2 linked regions of the Homo sapiens genome follow. The protein of the gene in region 2 interacts with the protein of the main gene of each other region in a pairwise test. Each region holds a gene or a part of one and is shown on either strand. Other genes may lie near its edges.

Region 1 (7,959 bases), on a different chromosome or scaffold from region 2:
GTACTGGCATTACAAGCATGAGCCACTGCCTGGCCTGTATTTTAAGGCTCTCATCCTGTGGTCCTGTTTGTTGTTCCACTGCAACAGGCCAAAGACAGAGGAACAGTGAAAAATCCACGTCTACAGAGAATGAGAGACAACAGACACTAGAGCTATGACTTAGCAGAAGCCCAGGAGCCTTTGGCCTCTGAGTAGGCTATGTCATGCGCCTTCAAGGACAGGGATCCTTGGAGTTACGCCTATAGTGTGATAACTGGTCCTTATCAGGACTGTTTTAGGAAGGCTTTCTGTGCCCTTTGAAAGAACATTTATTTAGAGTTTGGGATGTTGTCTTCACCTGAATAAGGAATGGAGGTAAAAGGAGCTTTATCCTCTTTTCTCCACTTTTCACTCATCTATCAACACACATCCTGGTTTATAGTAGCTTTCAGTTCTGTTGCTGACATGGTCCACAGATGGGTTCACCTTGTGATAATTATTCAAACAGTCCTCCATGCCCATATAAATACTGCTGATAAAGCACTAGCATGAGGTTTGTAAAGTAATTTAAGAGACTCTCAGGGTTACCATCTTTAATTTTAGTCTTGGGCATTTAGTTTTCAGGTTAATCCTGGCATAAAACTGTTGGAACAAGTACTGAGATACAACATACCAAAAAGCCATGCAGTTGCCATAGCATTGCTTCAACTTTATTATTCTTCATAAAAGTAAGAGTCAAATGAAGTTCAAAGAAAAATCAAGCTGTCACACGAGAGTCAGGAATAATATATTAAAATGTAAAAAGCTCCCCTAGATGATACTAATACACATAAATGGTTGAGAAGAATCACTGATCTGGACAGGCATTTTCACAATCCTGTCAGTATCATTAATAAACTCAGTAATATTTTAAATTAAGAGATATCTTGAAAAATATATATAACCTTGACTATGAAGAATATCATGAATTGTAGAAATTCTGACATCTGGCACCAATTCTCCCTTAGGATGAGATGACTGTGAAGCACAGGGTTCAATATTTGGAGTCACTATAGCATAATGAAGCAGTTCTTCATATTCTTCCTAAGAGAGGCCAATAATCAATAATGTAGTGTAACAGTTACAATGTTATAATATATTCAACTGAATTTGTTTTAAAGAAATTTAATTACCATAATAGAGTCCCATGCTTATTATATTACAAAGTTTTACCACTTATTCCAAGCTTGAGTTCCTCGAGTGCTTCTTGTGTGATTTTTATATTTATGATTAACAGTTTGAAGAGGGCTGGGTGCAGTGACTCATGCCTGTAAACTCAGCACTTTGAGAGGCTGAGGCAGGAGGATGGCTTGAAGCCTGAGCAACAAAGTGAGACCTCATCTCTACAATAAATTTTTTACAAAAATTTGCTAGGTGTGGTGGTGTGTGCCTGTAGTTGTAGCTACTCAGGAGGCTGAGGCAGGAGGACCACTTAAGCCTAGGAACTGGAAGCTGCAGTAAGACAAGATGGCACCACTGCACCCCAGCCTGGGTGACAGAGCAAGATCCTGTCTCTGGGGAAACAACAACAAAGTATGAAGAGGTGATAAGGTTCTGTGAGTGACTCAACACTGAATCAAAAATTTTCTATCACTTAATTTTATATGTCAGATTGGTTTAATTGAAGATGAGACATGCTATTAAAAAGATACCATTTTTGGAACTGAAAAAAAATTATGTAACCTAAACAAAATATAGAAGCAAACTGGATACTTAAGTTTATAAAACTGCAATGGCCTTCTATTACCCCCCAATTTCAAATGTACATTTATCAAGGCAGCTTAACTGTTTTTATTAACTGATTGCATTTGAATTTACAAAATAAATCTATACTACTGTAGTTTTGTTTTCATCTGCTTTTTTATATCGGAATTTTAAGTAAAATTGTTTTTTAAAAAAGCTTATGCTTTTATATATTTGAAAACTGCTAGCTTTTATGGCAATTACATGTACAAGAGTGACCTGGTTTGCGCTTCAACCTTGATTTCTTGATTTACAATTTTTTTCTTCTTTTTTTTTGAGATGGAGTCTTGCTCTGTAGCCCAGGCTGGAGTGCAGTGGCATGGTCTTGGCTCACCGCAACCTCTGCCTCCCAGGTTCAAGCGATTCTCCTGCCTCAGCCTCCTGAGTATCTGGAATTACAGGTTTGTACCACCACGCCCACCTAATTTTTGTACTTTTAGTAGAGATGGGGTTTCACCATGTTGGTCAGGCTGGTCTTGAACTCCTGACCTCTTGATCCACAGCCCTGGACCCCCAAAGTGCTAGGATTACAGGCGTGAGCCACTGCACCCGGCCTGATTCACATATTTAACATAGATACTTACACGCAGTAAACATTAGGTATAGCAAATACTGATTTTTATATATTTTAAGGCTAACGACAGAAGAGGAAGAGAGAGATATTTCAAAGAGAAAATCTTTAGAAAATTCAACCAGAATCTCCTTCATATTGCTATAATCAACCATTTTTGTTAGTGATGTCACCTTCATGAGAATAAACATCTGTCTGAGTTTTAAACTTACATTTCCTAGTAGCAAATAAAAATCAGTATTTTACATAATGGTTATCACTGAGACAGAAGGCTCTTATTAGGAAACAAATCATTTAGGATATCACAATACAACTTTTTTTATATTATAAAACTTAAAAAAATTATTAAAAAATTATAGAACATTTCACAAATTTGCATGTCCTCCTTGCACAGGGTCCATGCTAATTTTCTGTGTGGCTCCAGTTTTAGTATATGTGCTGCTGAAGCGAGCACCAACATTTAATTTTTACATTGACAAAAGTAACTATGATTATTTAAATAGATTTAAATATCCTTAGGTTAAAAAAAATACACTTCCCAAAGCATATTGGTTTTCTAATTATCAAAAAGAAATTCCCAAAGAGCTTAATAAATTGGGGCCATGCACAAGATATTTACTAGTTCCTATAAACCTGAATGTGTGTGTTGGTCCTAATAAACTAATACATAAAATTTCAAGTGCATAGAGACTGTAACTAATCCAGCAGCATCCATTTCTTTTTAATTTCTTTAACTTAATAAAGCCCCAGGGTTTGATTTGGGCAAATGGCCACCCAGCTACATTTCCCAGCCTCCTCTGCAGCTAGGTGTGGCCAAGAGACCTGGTCTATGGGATTCAACTGGAAATGATGTGTACAACTTTAGGTGAAGTCCTTAAAAACGAAGCTGCTTCCTGCTGGTCCCCTCTTCCCATGGGCTAGTGGTAGTACACTGTCAGTGCACCAGTACCTGACAATGCAAACACGGTCAACAGCTCATGGTACAGCAAAAAGAGAGAAGGGATTGGGTCCTCAGATGATCTCAGGACTACGTATCAGCTCAGAATTTATGAGAGACAGAATGAAACTGTAAGGAACCCACTTAAACCACCCTTACTTGGTTTCTGTTAAAGCACTATTATACTTCCCAAACACCCAAAATATACTTTTGATTTTGGCTAAGAATATATAAAAGTGTGGCTGTTATGGAGTTACGGAGTCTGAATGTTTGTGTCCCCTCAAAATTCATATGCTGAAGCCCTAACACCCAGTGTGGCTGTATTTGGAGATGAGGCCTTCAAGAAAGTAATTAAGGTTAAATAAGGTCATTGGTTGGGGCCCTGAGAGCATTAATGTACTCATCAGAAGAGACACCAGGAACCTTGTGCATGCTCTCCTCCCACCTGCACATACTGTACTGAGGAAAGGCCATGCAAAGATACAGCAAGAAGGCACCTGTCTGCAATCCACAAAGAGAGCCCTCACCAGAAACTGACCCTTTTGGGCTGTGATCTGGGACTTCTAGCCTCCAGAACTGTGAGAAGATAAATGTCTGTTGTTTAAGCCTATGAATTTATGGTACTTTGTTATGGTAGCCTGAGCAGATTAATATGATGGTGATCTTATATTGTGAGGTTCATAAACTTTTTATAGTGTTCCTGCTGTGGTGTCAGTTGCAACTAGATTTAGCCAAGTCAGCTCTACTCAGAGTTAGCCTATCACCACCTCTAGCATGTAGGAACGGAGGGAGAAGTGGAAGTCAGTGGCTTTCACTTGTGGCTTCCCTAGTCTGACTTCTGCTCTGGATAAGAGAAGGAAAAAAAAGATCCAAACACATATTTCAAATCATATACTTCATACATATTCATATATTTCATATATTTTACCACAATTGCTATGGCTTAAAGGGGAAATAAATAAGTATATGTCAATAGTATTCCATGACCATATATTCCAACTTATTTCAAGAAAACATTTAGAAAAAATCAGTTATTTAAATGACTATTTTAGAGTTTCATATATGTAGACACAAGCCAAATAAGTTATTTAAAAATAAAATTTAAAATTAAGAATCAAAATAAACAATATTGGCTTTCTTAATTGCCAAACATAACCTCTGTTAACATTCAAAACTTGTAATTTTGCCCCCCTCCCCAACCCCCAAGAGCTGAATTGATATGACCCTGAAATATAGCTCCACCCATGCCTCAACCATTAGAGTCAGAGCAACTTGGCTGATAGGAGCTGTGGTTAGAGGAAATTTTCAGTGTATAAGCACTATGGATGCTGCCCATCCCTCAGCATTTACCACCTTCTGGCTTATGAAGCATTCGCATAAAAAGAGAGTAACAAAAAAGTTCCTTAAGAGGAATATTTATTTATGAGGGGCTTTTGTATTAAATGTTTGGATTTACATATTTACTACATATGTAAAAATGTGTATTTTATGTTATTTTTAAGATTTTTTTTTGTATTTATATTTTGAAGTGCTTCCAGTAGTGAAACCCAAAGTAATAACACTGTATGTACAGGGAATATGGAGAGGCTTTCAACTTCAGTCCAAGAACCAGTAGGAACATTAGTTGACAGTAATAGACTCTCAGTTGAGCTTACATTATAGGTGGGTAAACAATAACACAAAATAATTTCTGGCAGGTTCTTCTTCCGTCTCTCTAAAATTCCACTCTAGAGAGTTATTCTTTTGATTTAAAGCTTTATCTCTTCACGAAATGAAATTTGAGAGCTCACAAGGTGTTTACATTTTAGTATAAATGAGTTAATCAGTTCTATCTTCAAGTTTCAATCAGACAGCGATGAAGGGTGGAGGAAGTACTGTCACCTGAAGAGAGGACTACATGGGACAGGTACCATCAAAAGGGAAGGCTAGGGTGCAAAAGCTCTGCCACAACTCCAGACTAGTTTTATCCTGTAAATATTCAGATATTTTCCCAATACCTTCCCCATTTTGAAATCCATAATTTCGATTAAAGGAACAAATTTGTTTCATAAAATATTTTCCTAAAGCTTTTCTCATATCGTACAGAATCAATAACAATTTCATATGCTTAGGCATAAACAGCCTTTCCCCTTGAGTAATACAACTGTAAAATTTAAGATATACCATGTCATTATTCTCATATTTAAAATCTACTCCAGAAATCTAAATCCATATTTTTGATGATGAAATATTTAGAAATAAGAGAAATTTAAAACATTTCATGTAAATACCACACCCTCTGTAGTTAACTGACCCACTTCATTTTATCTGTCAATGTCCAGGTCCTGGGCAGCAGATTGTACTGAATGTTGTGACAACAGAGACCAAACCTCAGCAAGTAGAACACAAGGGAATCTTGAGCTCTAGAACTTTGGATGGTTTGATATTGTATTAATTTGCATTAAAAGTGAAAGTAGCATTCATGAGAGGTAGCTAAAATGAAAAAAATTTAAACAAAAAAATGTTTCTTGAACATTTGTTTCACCTCTTACTGTGTTGGTTGAAGCCTTTGTACAGAGTGTATGAAGAGTTCATCAATATTTTCTGAAAAGTTAAAACAATGTAAAGTCACTCCTAAAATGTGTACAGTAATTCCTGAAGTTTGATATTATTATAAATTGAAAAACTCCCTTGTAAATGGATGAAAAAATTATTAAAAAATCCTAGTTTTCCCTTACATTCATTTGTTTAAAATAAAAAAAGTCATGGTAAATTTAGAAATTTTTTCCTACCTGAAGATTCGAAGAGACAGAACTGCCTCGACTGGAGTCATTTTGCACAACTGGAAGTGAGTATTTCTCCTCATCTGATGACATTCTGCACAAATGCTCTAAAACAGTAGAAGCTAACTTTAGCTTTTTTCCTTGATATTTAAGATAAAATCCTTTCCAGATATATATAAGTGCAACAGTATCCAAATCTGCAATCTTCCTGTGATATGCTAAAATCATTCATTCAACATATTGAGTACCTACAGGCAAAAAATCACTGGGCAAAAAACAGTTGAAGACCCAGTCCCAATATTAGTGAGTTTATAACGTAGTCAGGTCTTCAGAAAAATCCCCAGCGGGGCCTGTTGAGCATAATAGATTGTGATCACTGTTCTTGAGCAATGTGTGACAACCTGGGTGCTGTGTACTTTCCTCTAAGACACAGAACCAAGAGAGAACAAACAATTTGTGCAAATTCCCTTCTTGGGAAACTTACCTTTGGAAATATTATTTTAAGAAAAGTGAGCTTATACAGAACAACAGAATCAAATATATGCATAGAGAATTTGTTGAAAGTCCTAATCAAAAAATCATTAAAAGTACTTTTAGTAACAAGTAACCGAATTATTCAAAGAACAAATAGTGACTATTCGAACTATCTGAATACCAGTAATATGTAAGACATTGGTGAGGAATGTAAAATGAAGTCCTCATTCTTAAGGAGTTTACAATCTGTAGAGAGGGCCAGGCATGTATATTATATAAGTGACCGACTGATGAATAAACTGCTGATAGGCCCTAAAATAACAGATACAAAGTAGAGAGATAGGAGTAGCTATTTTTCATGGGGTAAGATTGCATGACTGTAAATAAGCAGGAAAGGAGGCACAGAAAGTTTTTAGAGAAGATGACCCAGGTGTTGAGATCTGAAAGATGAGTAGGTCTCATCCTGAAAGATGGATAAAAGGTATAAACACAGGTGTAGATATTCTAGGCAGTAGAGCAATATAAGCAAAGACAGAGCCATGGACATGTATGCCACGAACAGCAAGCAGTTTGGTAAGGACAAAGCAATGGGTGCAAAGGATTGGCTAAGGATGAAACAAAAAGTAAGGAGCAGCCAGATCATGGAAGGTCAAAACTTGTCATATTAAAAATCTGGGTGTTTATTCTAGACAAGTTATTGAAATATTTTTTAAAAGTTACATGATCAGAAAGATCATTCCAGCAGCGTTGAGGATGAATTTGGATATTAAGAGAGATCAGGCTGGGTGCAGTGAATCATGCCTGTAATCCTAGCACTTTGGGAGGCTGAGGTAGGTGGATCACCTGAGGTCAGGAGTTTGAGACCAGCCTGGCCAACATGGCGAAACCCTGTCTCTATTAAAAATACAAAACAATTAGCCGAGCCTGGTGGCAGGTGCCTGTAATCCCAGCTACTTGGGAGGCTGAGGCAGGAGAATAGCTAGAACCCTGGGGGTGGAGGCTGCAGTGAGCCAAGATCGCACCACTGCACTCCAGCCTGGGTGACAGAGACTCCGTCTCAAAAAAAAAAGAGAGAGAGATCAATTGAGAGCTGACTGCAGTAGTCTAAGAGATAAATGTTCTCTTTGATAGTAATTAAGAAGATAAATGATGACCTAAGTCTAGGAAGTAGCAATGGGAAGGGGATGGAGGGTATGACTACAAGACAGTTGTGTTATGGTGATGGAAAGAGAAAATGATCAATAATAGATCAAGGGGTTAAAAAGAACTGTTGGTGGCTTCCAGATCTCCGGTTTGGGTAACTAGATGGATAGTGCCACTCACCAAGGCAAGGAAGGTAGGAAGATGAGCAGGTTGGGAGGAAGGACAATGAGTGCCATATCAGATGAGCTGGGTGTGAGGATGCCTCTGAGGCACTAGGGTAAAGCTGCAAGTATGCAGTCTGTGGTCACACT
Region 2 (7,632 bases):
AAATTCAAACGCCAGTTTAGACCTGTTCCACTAGACCCTCCTCCCCTTGTCCCCATATTCTCTAGAGTATTAGCCTATTGAGAAGCAGGAGAATGCACTATTGAGTGAATTGAGAGGTTCTTCCCTGGCAGTGAGTGGGATTCAGAAATATTCTGGGGCCCCCTTTCCTTTTTTGGAGCGGACCATGCCCTTAGGCCACCCCTTTAAGGCTATGCATGGTGTGTGGCCAGCCCAACCACTGGGCTTCAGCCTGGGTTCCTGGTTTTCTCTTCTATCATCTGCCGGGCCAGTAGCCAAGGCTGAGCCCAGTCCAGTTGGCTGAGACTCTGCTTCTCCTAGTTTCTGCCAACTTTCTTTGTTTCTGGTATTTCTACTTTAATTCATACGTTGATCCTTGGGCCAAGACTCTGGTCAACAGGATACCAGGAACTCTTGCTTCCCAGAATGCCCCCTCCTTCCCCTGCCCTCAGATCAGGCCCTTCATACTGATGTTGGCCCAAGTTGCACCTGTTCCCATCCTGACTGCACCTTAGTCCACACTAAGACCTTGAACCTGAACTGTTAGCATCTTGCAGCCTGGGTGAGTTCCCCTACCCTGTGCCAGGCACCTCAGCAAAATCCTCACAGTGAATGCTTCCATACCCATCACTTCAGCTAGTACTGCCGCTTTGACAAATTAGTCCCTGTTAATGAGAATTAAGCCCAGGGTAGTTTGTTCCCCTGATTAGATCCACACCCTCTGAAGGGTAAAATTGCTGGCAAAGCAAGTGAAATGTTCCCAGAATTTGAGCATTTATCTTAATGGGGCTTTGTATGAGGATTTAATTTAGGTTTAGTTGTGACCAAAATATCCTGCCTCTTTGTTTTGTTGCCTGTTATTAAAACATTAGTCAAAGCCTCCATCTCAGCAGATCTATTTGTTATTTTCCCACAATTACATTTTTAAAATTTTCTTTAACTTCAGATTTGTAGCTATGCAAAATGATGATATCTTACTCCAAAGCAAAAAATAATTTATAACAGAAAACAAGCAGTATTAACACATAAACAAGCCACAGTGGAGCAGTTTACTGGGATTTGTAAAATAGAGCACTACTGAAATGCCAGACACTCTGACATCAACTATATGTCAGAGGGGCTAAAAGTCAAGTACCAAGAACCAAGATGTTCTAAGGATTAGCAGGGAGAGTGTCTCATAATCAAGCAGTAATAAGATGACTAAGGTTATAATAGTCCAATAACTAAGATATTTGTTGCTATTTCCAAGGACTATAAGTAGCTTAAAATGTTATATTAAGGTATTTGTTATAATTTCCTAAACTAAGATCCTACATTTGTAAATATTTACTCAAAATCGTTTGTTAGCGTAACCTCTTAAGCAAATTATACTTTGCTTGGGCCAGTATTAGATTTTATTTTTATTCTGTAGCCCAGGTATACATACTAGCCCTAGATAAACCCATGGTGGACAATTTACACATGAACGAAGAATCATTTGCAGGTATAAAGCCAGTGAATAGTCAAAATTGCACAACGTACTACCACCCAAGCAAGTCTATTCTTTATAAGATTATCTGTCCTGAGCTCCGTAAGTTTGTAAGTGGCCACCCTGTTTTCCTTCAAACTGGTATTCAGCTAAGTGGACAGGCTAGGCAAATCTACTGGCAGATTCCATCTCATTATGCTGGAACAATGACTGGAATTTAAGGAATGATATATGAAGCAAGATAATTTAAGACCACCAAAGAAGTGACAAAGGGAACCACATTTTTGTGTGTCCCAGAAGCTGTCCTGCCTCCAGATCAACAGATGAACAGCAAGTTCAGCACAGGGCAAATGGAGGGCGCACTCAAACTTCAGGGCCCTTTGTTTAACCTCATGTGCTCCAGGTTGACTCTTGAGAATTAAAACCCAAAACTCACATTACAAGCATCTTTCAAATTCTATTATTGAACTAGAGATATGGAAATAGATCTAGACAAATTATGGGGGTGAGGGGGTGAAGAAGGGACAGGCAGCCGCTGTCCTCTAAGGTTTCACAAAATGGAAGCAGGCAACCCAGAGAGTCACTTTAGCTTCTGAACCGACTTCAGTAAAGGCTGGTCTTCTTCATGATCCGAAGGAACTCCTCCTCGTTCACTTCGCCGTCCCCATCCCGATCAGCTTCGTCGATCATCTCCTGCAGCTCCTCATCCGTGAGGTTCTCCCCCAGCTCGTTGGCCACACGCTTCAGGTTTTTGAACGAGATCTTCCCGGTCTCATCGTCATCAAAGAGCCTGAAGGCCTTCAGGATTTCTTCTTTGGTGTCCTTCTCGGACATCTTCTGCGTCATCACGGCCAGGAAGTCATTGAAGCTGATCTTCCCCGTGCCTTCCCTGTCCACCTCGGAGATCATTTTCTTCATCTCTTCCTTCCTGGGTTCGAAGCCCAGCGCTCTCATGGCCACCTTCAGCTCCTTCGCGTCGATGGTCCCACTTCCGTCCACGTCGAAGAGGTCAAATGCTTCCCGAACTTCTTGCTTCTGATCCTCAGTGAGCTCGGGCTTAGGTGCCACCTTTCTCTTTTGGCCGGTGGAGGCAGCGCTGGGCTTCTTGAAGCCGGAAGCCATCCTGCCGCTCTGGCCGCCGTGGTCCCAACGGCACCGCCCCGCGCTCTCATTCGGGCGCCCCCCGCCGGCGCGGCGCGGGACCACCCCTCGCTCACTGCCAACGCCCACGCCCGCTGGGGCCTGGAGCCGGCCCGGGGAACCTCTTCCTACGCCCTCCCATCTGCGGGATCTTGCTTAGGCGAGAATCCGCTGTCCCCTCGGGTCATTAACCGGTTTCCACGAGTTGACGCCTGAGCTGGCAAGAACAGCCTGTAGCCACAGTTGTCTTCTGTAATCCACTGGCGCTGGCAGTTCTTTCCAAGATATGTGCTAGCATCCATAAGACCCCAGTTTTATAGGTTTCTTTAGGGACTCTTCCTCTCTCTCTCTCTCTCTCTCCTCTCTCTCTTTTGACAGGAGTGCACTGGTGCCACTCAGCTTACTGCAGCCTCCACCTTCCAGGATCAAGTGATCCTCCCACCTCAGCCTCCATAGTAGCTGAGACTACAGGGCATGCCACCACACCCAGCTAAATTAAAAAAAAAAATTTTTTTTTTTATAGAGACAGAGTCTCACCATGTTGCCCAGGCTGGTCTGAAACTCCTGGGATCAAGGGATTTCCCGCCCCAGCCTCCCAAAGTGCTAGAATTACAGGCATGAGCTACCAAGCCGGGCCTCTCCTTTTTATACCATTTAAAAAACCCTCTTGTTCTAGCGGCAACACCCAATGAGGTGACAGGTCCTAAGGGTAAATTTAGGATAATCAAGATTGAGTGTGATCACTTGACATTCAATGTGGGGAAGGAGAAGGAAGAGAGAATATTAAAAGTCATACCATGTGTTCAACTTGACATAAATGGGAAACAGAGAAAATGGAAAAATTTATGTATAAAATGCGTAGAAGTTTGTCTCCTGACATTACACTCAACAATAATACAATGTTTCTGGCATGTTCTCAAATATGAAATGTAATATCCAAATGTATGATTTACTTTCAGTGTTTCCATTTTACATACTCAGTATAATTGCACTTGAATAATGGTCATAATTTCATTCATGAGGCTTTTGATTTGGAGGGAGGGAAGTGGAAATACTACATTCTGGTATATTCTAGTATTTTCTTTTCTCTAACCTCCTAGCAGCACATTACTCTCCTTGCTTATCATCCAATCAGAGCTGTGCTGAAACCCACGCTCTGGTCGCCTTCCTTTGGCAATGGGCACAGGAGATGATGCAGGACATGTTGGGACTCAAAATTGCCTCCTGGGAATAAAGCGGTTCTCCTACAAACCAAAGAGCAAGAGGAAAATGGAAAAGAAAAAAAAAATTACCAAATAAGCCCACCAAGGAATTGCCTGTAGAATTACTTTGCATTCTTTTAAATAGTTACAGAAAAGAAAGCTGACTTATTTTTTTAGCATTCTCCCCCTGCCCCGCCCCCCCGCAATCAAATCTCAATCTATTAATATATCAATACCTTTTGTAACCTATGAAGGTTACAAAAGATGTCACTTTGAAGAGTTTGTGTTAAAGAGTTTTATGGCTGGGTGCAGTGGGTCACACCTGTAATCCCAGTAATTTGGGAGGCCAAGGCGGGAGGATCACCTGAGGTCAGGAGTTCAAGACCAGCCTGGCCAACAAGGTGAAACCCTGTCTCTATGAAAAATACGAAAATTAGCTGAGAGTTGCTGCGCACAACTGTAATCCCAGCTACTTGGGAGTATGAGGCACGGGAATCGCTTGAACCCAGGAGGCGGAGGTTGCAGTGAGCAGATATTGTGCCCCTGCACTCCACCCTAGGCAACAGAGTGAGATTCTGTCCCCAAAAAAACAAACAACAACAAAACAAAACAGTGCTGGATACAACACAGTAGGTAGGTTAATAAATATTCGTTGAATGAATGCATGACAATTAAGGTTGGTCCTAAAATACCTTCTGAATACAACAAGTGAAAACCCCAAAAGATTAAATGATGCCAGGAATGTTTTACAAACTGTTTTTTAAAATTAGTGGTCAGATATTGTTTACATGGCACATTTAATTAGCCATATATCACTACCTGCCCCAGTTCGATATGTGACTTAGTTGACAGAGAGCCTGGACACAGGGTTTCTTCTAAAGGCCAAGGAAACTTACATAGGACCTCCCCTCTCCTGCCTTCCAGTACTTGTTGTGGACAGTGTCAACTCAAGGCACACTGGCAGGCAGACACTACAGCTGCTGTTCTTCTAACACCGCAAATCCTTGTGACCTGCTTTTTTCCATGTCAGAAGCCTGGGATCTTATCCCAAGTCTATGCCTTATTATCTCTGTGACTTTGGAAAGTCACTTAAACCACCCAGAGTCATCGAAACACCTGCAAAGTAGGCATCATCATAAAGCTTCCCACTGCATTTTCAGTGGGAGAATGTACACAAAAGCTCCAGGAACAGTGCCCTAGTGGGGCCATACAGATCTGGGTAATTGTTAGTTGAATAAGAATTTTTCTCAGACATTGTACATTTCCTTTGGCACCCACCCTTCTGCCCAAATTCAAGCCAAGCTATGATGTGTTGGGAAAAACTGAAGTATGGAAGCTGCCTTATATAGAGCTACATTTGGGCCAAGCTGAACTAAAAGCAAAACGGTTGTCATGGTTTCCAGATGTGTGCAATCAACAGTTACAACAAAGGGCCACCAAGAGCTCCCTTCATAGAAACAGTGCCCATAGTCACAGTCAGCTCTTGGTGGGGAGTTACATTATGTTCAGAGTCCAAACTCTGACTTAAGAAGGGAAGGGAAACACATTTAATGTGTGCCTAGCTTTGGGCGTGCTTCTCATAGTTGTCATCTTATTTGATCCTTGCCATCATTTCCTATTTTGCAGATGAAAAAAATGAGGCCCAGGAGAGGCCTGTAACACATATTTAATGGTACATGGCCAATAAATGGTGGCTCTGGGATTTAAATCCTGGCCTGCTGAAGCTTTGTTCACTACATCATGCTGCCTTCTCCACAAGTTGATTCTATATTACCAAAATATAGAATCACTGGGAAGACATGATACAGATTTTGTTACAGTAGGTAGCTAGTCAGGCATGAGCGGGGCAGAGAAGGGCTCCCCTCCCAACCCGCCAGGAATGTCAGGTGATGATCAGGGGATGGTTTGGCAGTTGTCACACTGCCTCTCTAAAATGATCATTGATCATGGCCACAACAGGGAGAGGCAGTTTCCCAACAGATGAATACACTTGAAATTGGTAGTCGGCAGCTTCCAATAAGATCTCAGGAATTGGGCCAGTGGGCTTGAGCATGCGCATTAAGAGACAAAATGGCAGCGTATGACCTTCTAGGGGCGTTCCACTGGAAAAGGGGAAGAAAGCCTCAGGTGATCACGCATACAACTTCTTAAACACACTGCCCATGCTCACCTCCCAATCCCAAGCAGGGCACTATGCATGTGGGCGGTTCACCTTAAGAGAAGAATAAGGGAAAGGGGCACAAGATGCGGGAAGTAGGCCAGCGTATAAAATCCTAGGTTCAAGATCAAACGGGGCACTTGACCTCCAGGGCGTCCATTGGCTCTCTTCCAGGTGTACTTGTGAAGTGGCCTTGTTGCCTGGGGTGACACCCAAGGTTCTCGGTCTCACGGCCACGGAGGTAAAGGATGTGGAAACACACAAAGGGTGAGGTTTCGAGCAGAATTTTAATAGGTGAAAGAAGGAGAATAGCTCTCTGCCCCAGAGAAGGGTCCCGAGAAAAGGAGTTGCCGATCCGTGGTTAAATGCAGGGGGTTTTATAGATGAGCTAGTGGGGAGGCGGTGTCTGACCTACAAAGGGCATGAAAAACTGGTTAGGACCGGGTGTGCCATCTGCATAGGGCACGAATCTCTGGCAGCCCCCACCCCAGTCTTTTATTATGCCCGTGGCTAGATACTCCATGTTACTTCTTCCTTCCTTCCTTCCTTCCTTCCTTCCTTCCTTCCTTCCTTCCTTCCTTCCTCTCTCTCTCTCTCTTTCTTTCTTTTTTTGAGTAGGAGTCTCACTCTGTCACCCAGGCTGGAGTGCAGTGGTGAGATCTGGGCTCACTGCAACCTCCGCCTCCCAGGTTCAAGCGATTCTCCTGCTTCAGCCTCCTAAGTAGCTGGGATTACAGGTGTGCGTCACCACGCCCGGCTAATTTTTGTATTTTTAGTGGAGACGGGGTTTCACCATGTTGGTCAGGCTGGTCTCAAACTCCTGACCTTGTGATCCGCCTGCCTCGGCCTCCCAGAGTGCTGGGATTACAGGCGTGAGCCACCGGGCCCGGCCGCTTATTTCCTTCTTACTGTGCATGTGCTAAAAATAGAGGGGAGGTGGAGCCCCCAGGGTGGACATTCCTGGCCCCAGGTACCTCTTTCTAACTGTGCAGCTTCTGGCATCCCCTCGTGCAAGTTTCCAGCTTCCTTATCTATGTTTGCAGCCCGATCTCCCAGGCTGCTCTTTGTTAGAAAAGAAGGGATTTCTTGGGCTGTTCTTTGTTAGCAGGGAAGTTCTGCCGAGGACTCTTTTGCCCTCATTATCTGCTTAAAATAATTTCTGTCTCCAGTATCACTTGCCTTATGTTCCTGCTCTAAAGCGTTTTAATAAACGCTCTGAAACTTGCCTCAGTCTCTTTTTCTGCCGTATGACCCTGAGTTGAATTCTTTCTTCTGAGGATGTAGGAATTGAGGTTGCTGCAGACCCATACGGATTCTATTAAGGTAACTTGGATATTCGCTACTAGTGATACATTTTGGTGCCACGTGACTCGGATACCTTCTGCTGCTAACAATTTTCTTCCCTACACATAACAATAATTAAGCATCTTGCCTAGAAGGATTGAACAGGAATTTGTAGGATCTAAGACAGGGTCCCATTCTGGGGCGAGTCACTGAACCTGCAATATGCTTAGTATTTACATCTGTTCTTCCTCCATTCCACTTCACCCCATTCCCTGCTTTCAACTCTGTATATGAGCTGGGGAAAGCAATCTGGGCAAAATGCCTTTGCTTGGCATTAGTGAAAGTCTATACAAGGCATGTGA

What was found.
Region 1: the proteins of CETN1 (region 2) and POC5 interact in binary tests that used the Homo sapiens proteins (3 or more experiments, as listed by UniProt).

The regions. Positions count from the first base shown.
Region 1 is NC_000005.10:75,706,814-75,714,772, forward strand, and holds part of POC5 (centrosomal protein POC5), read right to left. Parts: intron 6,139-7,959; 5' UTR 6,125-6,138; coding exon 6,041-6,124; intron 5,848-6,040; exon of another isoform or gene 5,794-5,847; intron 5,620-5,793; exon of another isoform or gene 5,572-5,619; coding exon of another isoform or gene 5,563-5,571; intron 1,063-5,562; coding exon 924-1,062; intron 1-923. UniProt on the Homo sapiens protein: Essential for the assembly of the distal half of centrioles, required for centriole elongation. Acts as a negative regulator of centriole elongation.
Region 2 is NC_000018.10:575,385-583,016, reverse strand, and holds CETN1 (centrin-1), read right to left. Parts: upstream 2,638-7,632; 5' UTR 2,609-2,637; coding exon 2,090-2,608; 3' UTR 903-2,089; downstream 1-902. UniProt on the Homo sapiens protein: Plays a fundamental role in microtubule-organizing center structure and function. Plays a role in sperm cilia formation.